Regions from separate parts of the Homo sapiens genome. Here region 1 is linked to region 2. Evidence: fine-mapped expression QTL. Tissue or cell type: whole blood. Region 2 holds a variant in brackets; the other region holds the start of a gene. All regions are shown on one strand. Distances are from middle to middle.

Region 1 (4,147 bases), 62 kb after region 2:
TGACCCTCAGGACTTCATCTGAACCTGTGAAGAGTTTCCATGCAGGGAAGGGGGGATGAGTAGAGCTAGGGACCTAAAATTTGAGAGGGGAAGATATTCCCCAGTGGAAGACAGTAAATCAAAGACTAGAGACCAAGCATCAGTCTACTGGGTGTTTGCTACACCTCTGAAGAGCTAAGGTAGGACACTTGTTTTAGGAAAAAAGAAAATCTGTCACTGGAGACTCTCTTTATATATTTTGTCTTACCATATGCTTCTTTTGGAAGGGGGGTTGGGAATCAAGGTACAGGAACGGAGTGGGCACAAGTAAGGGCACCACCAACTCCCAGAACCGCCTCATCCCTTCCCATGCTACCCTTTCCCCACTCATCTCTTTTTGCTGATTCTGCCTACAGGTTTTCCCTCCTGTTACAGTAATGGACACTCAACAACACATACCCTTCCCAGCAACCTGTCCTGCTGGAAAACTACTCGATAAGGTAACTTCTGCCTGAAGGGGACCAGGGTCATCATACCCGCAAGTGCAGCATCTTCCTGCAGCTCTCATACTACCAAGCTGGGGTTTTTCCAACATAAACATTACAGGTGCTAAACGAGAGGTGGCTTCCTTTCTCAATAAGCTGTTCTCTCTCTCGGATGCCCTTGACAGAGCCCTGCAGCCTCCCCCACTGGGGCTTGGTGGATAGGTGGTCGCTTCTCCCCCGAATTTCAGGAATGTTTAGGTTTGCACAGGTCCTGCAGGCGAGCTTGGAGAAGGATTAGAAAAATGCTCATTCTTAATCAGTTCGGGCTTGTCTTTATGCCAGCGAGGTTGACCTTGGGGACAGAAGGGTGGCCAGGATAAGGACAAGCATCCTGGTATTGGGGAATTCTCTGATATGGGGCTGGGACGTCAAGATGGGCCATGATGGCCCCTGGGGATAGGGCTTCTCTGCAGTGGAAGCAGAAGCATCCCGGTGTTTTCTGCTGTGTCACTGTCCTCAGAGGGATGTATAAAGCTGCTTGGGGGCTCATAGGAGAGGGATGAAACCAAGAGTTTGGCTTTCCAGCAACAGCGGACAAAGAGTGGGAAGGGGTACTCTATGCCCCAGGTCTGCAACATCTTGCCCTATGCGCTAGGTTTTCCCAAAGGTCCTTTGGCTCCAAGAATTTTACAGCAGAACAAAGGGATCGATACCCCCAAGGGGGCATAAAAGCATGCCAATGAGAATACCCGCCGCCGACCGGGCACCAAGAAAGTCCTCGGTGGCTGGGTCACGTGCAGATATTGTTGCCTGGGGTCTAGACTGGCCTGAGTCTCAATTGGTTTCTACGGGACAACTCACTGCGGGCTACCGCCCTGGGTGGGTTTGGCAATTGTCCTGCTCGAGGTGGTTCAGGCCGCCCACAAGGGGCACAGCCGGGCAGTCAGGAACCGGGGCTGCCGGCTGGGCTGGCCTGCAAAGAAGAGGGAAGGGCCGGAACTGCAACCGCAGTGGCGGGGAGTGCGAGGGGGCGGCAGGTGCAGGAGCGGGAGGCGGGGCGGAGCTGGGCAGAGTCCTCGCCAGTCCGGCGTCCCGGAGTGACCTTCCCCCACCCCGCCAGCGCCCAGGAGGGGTGGACCCACAGCCCAGGGAGGCCGAAAGCGCGGGCGGGCAGGCAGAGGCGTGGAGGCTGGGCCAGGACTGCCGGGCTGGGGTCCTCGAGGCTCCGGGCGACCCAGGTGCGGATCCCCCAGCCACGGAAGGGGCGGTTCACGCCCAGCCGGGAGCTGGGAGGGGGCTGCGCGGCGCTGCCTGCGCGTCCCTCACCGCCGCCCCCGCCTCCTCCTCGCCCCGCGCCCAACGCCCCGCGCCCAGCGATCCAAGCGGCCCCTCTAGCCCCGGCGGCTCCTTTGTGCCGGCCCCGAACCCGCCCTCTCGGGCCGAGTCCCTGCCCCTGGCGCCGGCGATTGGCCACCGGGCCGCTAGAGGGCGGGGCGCACGGCCGCCGGGGCGCGGTATATAGTAAAGGTAGGGCGGGCGCAGCCAATTCCTCGGCTCCTGGCGGGAGTGCCGGTGGCGCCCCGCAGTCCGCTTGTCCGTCCTTCCCTCTCTGACTCTCCTACCCCGGGCCTGTCTCTGCAGAGGTCAGGGGAGGCGGGGGCCCAGCACACGTCCCCAGTGGCAGCGGGAGCGGCAGCTACGGGTTCGCGGAGCCCCCGACCCCCCAAGGGCTAGAGGAGCGCTCGGCGGACCAAAGAAAGCCCGCGAGCGGCTGCGCGCCCACCAATAGGTGCGGGGCTCGGAGCCGCGCAGCCTGCGCCGTCCCTCCCTCCGCCCCCGCCCCGCCGCCGCCGCCGCCGCCGCCTCCCCCTCCTCCTGCTCCTGCCTTGGCTCCTCCGCCGCGCGTCTCGCACTCCGAGAGCCGCAGCGGCAGCGGCGCGTCCTGCCTGCAGAGAGCCAGGCCGGAGAAGCCGAGCGGCGCAGAGGACGCCAGGGCGCGCGCCGCAGCCACCCACCCTCCGGACCGCGGCAGCTGCTGACCCGCCATCGCCATGGCCCGCGGGAAAGCCAAGGAGGAGGGCAGCTGGAAGAAATTCATCTGGAACTCAGAGAAGAAGGAGTTTCTGGGCAGGACCGGTGGCAGTTGGTGTAAGTACGGGGTCCGCAGCTCCCGGCCGCCGCGTCTGATCTTTCCCGGGCGGCGCATCCCCTGCGCAGGGTCCGCGGCCGGTTCCGCACCCACCGCGCTGGCCGGGGTGGCGGGGGCGAGGGTGGTGGACGCTGCTGGGTCGCGCCGGCCTGGGCTTGCAGTCCTGTGCGGAATGCGGTGTCCCCAGAGTGGGGCGCAGGGTCGGGGCTGGAACACGACAGGCGGAAGGTTATGCATATCGTAGCGATCTTGGCTTGGTAATTTGCAGTCTTTCCTACCGTGCATCGGTTGAGCCTTTTACTCCTGGGAATAGTCAGGCTCTGCGAGACTACATTTGTCTCTCCCGTGTCCTGAGTCCTTAAAAAAAAAATGAGATCTGGGGTCTTGAGAGAACCTCGTGAGGTGATGGGATCTAATGCAGACGAGGTTGTGTGTTACAGCATCTTTCTTCTAGTCTAAATACGTATCTCAAAAGAGAGGAAAGAGAAGGGTGGAGAGGAATCCATCCACACTGTAGTATTTCACAGCGATGGCTAAGGATTTCCCTCCATGACCTCCCCTGGAGTCATCACCACCCAGAAATGGTTCAATAAGCTCCATTTCAGGACTCCGATTCTTAGCTTTGGCCCGAAACCTGGCAAAGTCTGGTTGTTTTCAAGGTCTACACAGACAGTTGTGGATCAGTCAGTAGGTTGGGTTGATTATGGTGAAGGGAATATAAACGCAGAGCAGCTGATCTTAAAATATTTTGTGCAGCCTGTTGCTTGGTTGGATAGACTTTTTTCCATCGAAAATTAGATTTCTTGTTTTCAGCCTCTCCGGAAAGGTGACTTTTTTTTTTTTAAAAAAAAGGTCATTTTGAAGGGCAGAGTTGTAGGCGAATCTATGAGTCGTGACTGCGTGAGGGAAGGAGGGAGGGAACTCCCCCTGCTGCATCACTGCCCCCTCCTCCTCCAACATCATCATCATCATCATCATCATCATGACCATCACCACCAACACCACTGGCACCACCACTGCAGTCATTCAGGGAGTCCTGAACAGAGGCCGATTGGTGTTCCTGCTTGGGAGGATCTGTGGGAATCGGCAGGAGAATGAGTCAGGGAAATAGTGCTTAGCTGACATTTTGAAATGGAAGAAGCTGGAATATATGAATTTTTGTAAAGAAAAAAAAATGCAGCCTGTGAGTCTCTCTTGATTGAAAATTAAAGGGTTAATAATGCATCACACTTCAAGGTTAGTCAAGGTGAAGCGTCTTTCCAAGGTGTTACTGGGAAGCATAGGTATCCCTGAGCCATGGAAAATGTAGTTCTTTAATGGCTTTTAGCTTTTGTTTTATATTTTATTTTGGGGAGACTTCTTCATTGAGATTATTGTCATAGTGTCTCAGGCATAAAGGTAGTTTCCTGTGTTTTACTGTGGAAAGGAAAACCTGAAGAACTGTGGGGTGTGTGTAGAATGAACAGCTCCCTGGCAACTCCTTGTAACTTGAGGGAGGCCTGGAAGGTGCACTGCGGTATGGGCACCCTTCTCC
Region 2 (4,348 bases):
AAAATTTAAAATGGAAAATTTTAAAAACTAGCTCAAAAATGCATAAGAAGAAATCTAAGTCAAGGTATCTCCCCTTGCTGAGCCCACATCTGGGAGGCAGCATGAAGAAATGAAATGAACAGGAACAACAATGGAAAAAGAACAGGCTCTGGAATCAAGCAGTCCTGGATGTGACAGGCAATGGGAACTTAGACCATCACATAAGTGTCAAACACTGAGCTTTCTCAACTGCAAGACACAGAAAACAATATCCACTTCATGGGTCTATTGTAAGCATTGGCCATGATATATTTATAGTGTCTGGCACAGAGTAGGTGCCAAAATTTGGTAGTTATTAATAGACAATTCACTTAACTCTGAGCTTAGTTTTATTATGTATAACAGGAAGGCAATAATTCCTATGAGAGAATAGATATGAAAAGGATTTCTGAGCTTTAAAATTCTCTGAAGAGTCAATATTGTTATCAATAATTGGGAAGTCAATATATATAGATACAGAGCATTAGCTAATACATAGGTTACATAAAAGTGTATGATTTCTATCTCTGAAAATATGGTAAACCAGGGCTGCAGGGGAGAGGGGAAGGGGCAGGTTGCAGTGTTAAAAATAGTGGTCAGACAAGCACATGTATGTTAACTGCAGCACTATTCACAATAGCAAAGAAATGGAATCAATCTAGGTGCCCATCAATGATGGACTGGATAAAAAAAAAATGTGGTACATATACACCATGGAATACTATATAGCCACAAAAAAAGAATGAAATCATATCCTTGGCAGCAACATGGATGCAGCTAGAGGCCATTACCCTAAGCAAATTAACACAAGAACAGAAAACCAAATACCACATGTTCTCATTTATAAATGGGAGCTAAACATTGAGTACATATGGACACAAAGAAGGAAACAATAGACCCTGGGGCCTACTTGTGGGTGGAGGGTAGGAGGAGGGAGAGGATTGAAAAACTACCTATCAGGTACTATGCTGATTGCCTGGTTGACAAAATTATCTGTACACAAAACCCCTGTGACGTACAATTTACCCACGTAACAAACATGCACATGTACCCCCTGAACCTAAAATACAAGTTGGAAAGAAAAAAGAATAGTAGTCAGAATAGGTCTCATTAAGAAGGCAAGACTTGAGCACAGACTTGTGGGAGGTGAGAAAATATCTGTGGGAGGGGCCTCCTGAAAGAGGGAAAGGTTAAAGCCAAGACCCTACAATGGGAGCGGGCCTGAGTGTTGAGGAGTGGCTCCAGGCCAGTGTGGCTAGAGCAGCACAAAGTGTAAGGAAGAGTGGTGGGCAAAAACTCAAAAAGGAAACAGCAGTCAGGAGATGCACGGCCCTAGTGCGCAATGTAAGGGCTTTGACTTTTACTCTCAGTGAAAACTATGACAGGGTTTTAAGCAGAGGAATAACATGACCTGACTTATGTTTTAGAAGAATTACTTTGAGAATAAAATTTCCAGTGGCAAGTAGAGAAGCAGGCTAACCTAAGCAAAACCCACTACAGGGATCCAGGTGGCAGATAGTGGCTGAAAGCCAAATTAGAAAGAGTTTAAGAGAAAAAATGGCACAACTAAGAGATTAGCACAGCTCTTGACTACAAAGCTGCAAACACAAAATTCAGTGCAGGGCCTGGAGAGTGCTCATGTGAGTGAGGGGCCCTGATGCTTAAGCTTTGTCAGCATCTGTGCACACCCACCTCTGTACAAGCCAAGGCCCCTGGCCTGGTCAGTTGGGTGGATGGTGAGGTGCTTACCAAGTTGGGTACCCAGGAGTAGATAAGAGTTTGCAAGCAGGAAGAAGACAGATCATGCATTTCACTGTGAGATTTTTGAGATTCAGAGGTCAGTGCAACATCTAAGTGAAAATGGCCAGGCTCTTTCTGCTCCTAACAATACTGCCAAGAGCTATCAGGATGACCTTTCTAAAAGGCACATCTGATCAAGTCACTTTCCTGCTTAAAAACCTCAGTGCTTCCCTTTGCCCATATTCCTTTGAAAAGAAACAGTTTCTCACAGTCTAGCCCTGGCCTGTCTTTCCAACTATGTCTTCCTCCATTCCATGCCTGGCACACTGTTCCCTCTGACTTGCAACTCCCTCTGTCTACAGTGTCCTTCTCTAACTACTAAACTCCTCCTCTCCCTACACTGCCCTGATCTAATAACTTCTGTGAAACCAC[G/A]TCCCCTCCTGCACCTTCTTCAAGGCAGGACTAACCACTTCCTCTCTGCTGACTTAAAGCCCTCTGTACACAGTTCCATGAAATCTGCACCCAGAAATGCGAACCCATAAGCCTGAGAGGCAGGGTTGACAGCGGAACAATTATGGGTTTTAGAATTAGATTAACCTGGGTTAAAACACACACACTTGCTTGCTGTATATAACTTTAAGCATGTTATTTAATTTCTCTAAGCTCAGCTTCTTATAAAGGTAATGCCTATTTTGTAGAATAGGTGTCAAGATTAAATGAGAAAATTTAAGTAAATCACCCCAGATAGGACCTGGCACACAATAGGTGTCCAAAAATTATCATTTCCCTCCAGACCCTGTTCCTCTTGGGCAGAAAATGTGTTTAATTTATATTCTATATGTCCCATTGTCACTGGTCACCCAGCACATAATAGATGCTTGATAGACATTAACCTGAATGAATGGACCCTGTCTTCTCAGAAACATTTACATATACGTTTTAGAAGTACATGGGTTCAGAGGTTAGGATAGAAATTCTAAAGTGGACCTTGGCATGTAAATCCCCTTGGGTCTAATATCAAACCAATTGCTTCCCCTTGGCAGCAGCAGCAGAGCCCTTCTGTGTCTCTGGGGAGCATTCAGCCATCCAGTCTGTGAAGATTTCTCTCATTGCTCTCCAGAGCTTCCGTTACATCGTGCTCTTCTCACTTCCTTCTCAGCTGTGCTCCCACTCCTCAGCCTTGTTTGTTCTGTTTTCCTCCGCCATTTTTCACCACACACCATATGGCCTTCCCTTGCCTGCCTTAAGCTTGGAACTTCACAGCCTTCTCCAGGCTTCCCCAGGGCAACCTGGGCCCTCTGGGCCTGCTGACCACCCCCTTTAACTAGCAGCCCTGCCCTGATGCCTACTTTGAAACCCAGCACTGTTCCTAAGGAGACGCAGGACACAGAGCCTTTTAGTAAATTCACTTCAGGGGCTGGTTCTGCCAGTTAACTATGAGCCTAGAGTGTTTTGAACAGGTGGTGATCTTCCAAACACAATGTGATCGTGTGTTTAATCTTAGAATCATGAGAGGCTAGTAGGGCAGATACAGAAAAACACAATTTTACCTATTTGTTTCAACCTCCTCCAGCATCCAGTGAGGCAGCCTCCTGGTGCAGAGGATCCTTGACAAGCTCTGGAGTCTCGTGGACACAAGTTTGTGTCCCAGCTCTGTGTCTCCCTAGCGGTATTGTATGTATGCTTCTCAAGTTCTCTAAACCTTAGTTTCTTCATTTGTGAAACTAAGATAACAATACCTGCCACACAGAGTTATTAGTTGATATCATGCGTTTATTTGTTATCTAGCAATACATAACAAATCAGCCCAAAACTTAGTGCCTTGCAAGAGCAATGCTGTTTATTAGCTCTTGTGGGTTTTGTAGGCCAGGAATTTGAGAGCAGCTGAGCTGAGCTAGTCTGAATCGGGGTCTCCCAGGTGATTGAGGCAGACTGGTCAGTGGCTAGAGCTGGGGTCAATTTCAAGGCTTCTTCATTCACAGGTCTTGTTCCCATGCTGGGAAGACAAATAGCTGGAGCAGGGGCTGGAGCAGCTGTGGCTCCCCAGGCACCTCCCTCTATCCCTTTGGGACCCACCACATGGTCCTTCTGCATGGTCCCTTCAAGGTCTCCAGATTTCTTATGAGGTAGCTCAGGGCTCCAAAGGCATGTATCTCACTTGAGAGAGAAACAGGTGAAACCATATCCTCTTTTCTGGCCTGGCTGGAAAGTCACACAGTGACATCACTTCCATTGCCTTCTATTTATTAGAAGCAAATCACTACCACCAGACTGTATTCTAGGAGAGCAGAATTAGACCGCTCCTTTTATTTGAAATAGTGCCGAAAATTTGTGGACATGCTTTAAAAACACCATAGTATGTGTGATGCCCAGTCCTCAATAAGTAGCATCAATTTTTTTTATGTATCAGGTGAGTTGAAAAATAAGACAAAAAAATGCCTCTGTGCCCTATCATTCCTATCTTCACTCTCCACAAACACACTCACCATGAAACAAGGTGAAAGCACTTAGCAATGTAGGCAAAGGTAAAAAGGAAGCATAAAAAGGGGAGGCAAAAACAATGATCGTTGACATTTATTGAACACTTGCT

Evidence for each region. PIP is the estimated chance that this variant, and not a neighbour inherited with it, causes the effect.
Region 1: it holds the start of ATP1B1, and the variant in region 2 is fine-mapped to the expression of ATP1B1 in whole blood (TOPMed, PIP above 0.99).

The regions. Positions count from the first base shown.
Region 1 is chr1:169,104,315-169,108,461 of GRCh38, forward strand. It overlaps ATP1B1 (ATPase Na+/K+ transporting subunit beta 1), which reads left to right and starts at 2,376. Exons shown (of 6, transcript NM_001677.4): 1 at 2,376-2,612. The coding sequence starts at 2,516. LOC101928596 (a long non-coding RNA gene) reads left to right here. Exons shown (of 2, transcript NR_135799.1): 1 at 1-179; 2 at 396-593. RefSeq lists enhancers at 793-1,366, 1,857-2,151, 1,940-2,512, 2,513-3,085 and a silencer at 1,424-2,343.
Region 2 is chr1:169,042,323-169,046,670 of GRCh38, forward strand. All of the region lies in intron 3 of LINC00970 (long intergenic non-protein coding RNA 970), which reads right to left. Among named protein-coding and RNA genes, the nearest start is that of LINC00970, 43 kb to the right of the region's middle. RefSeq lists enhancers at 2,037-2,296, 2,849-2,978. The variant G/A (reference allele first, on the strand shown) is at 2,191.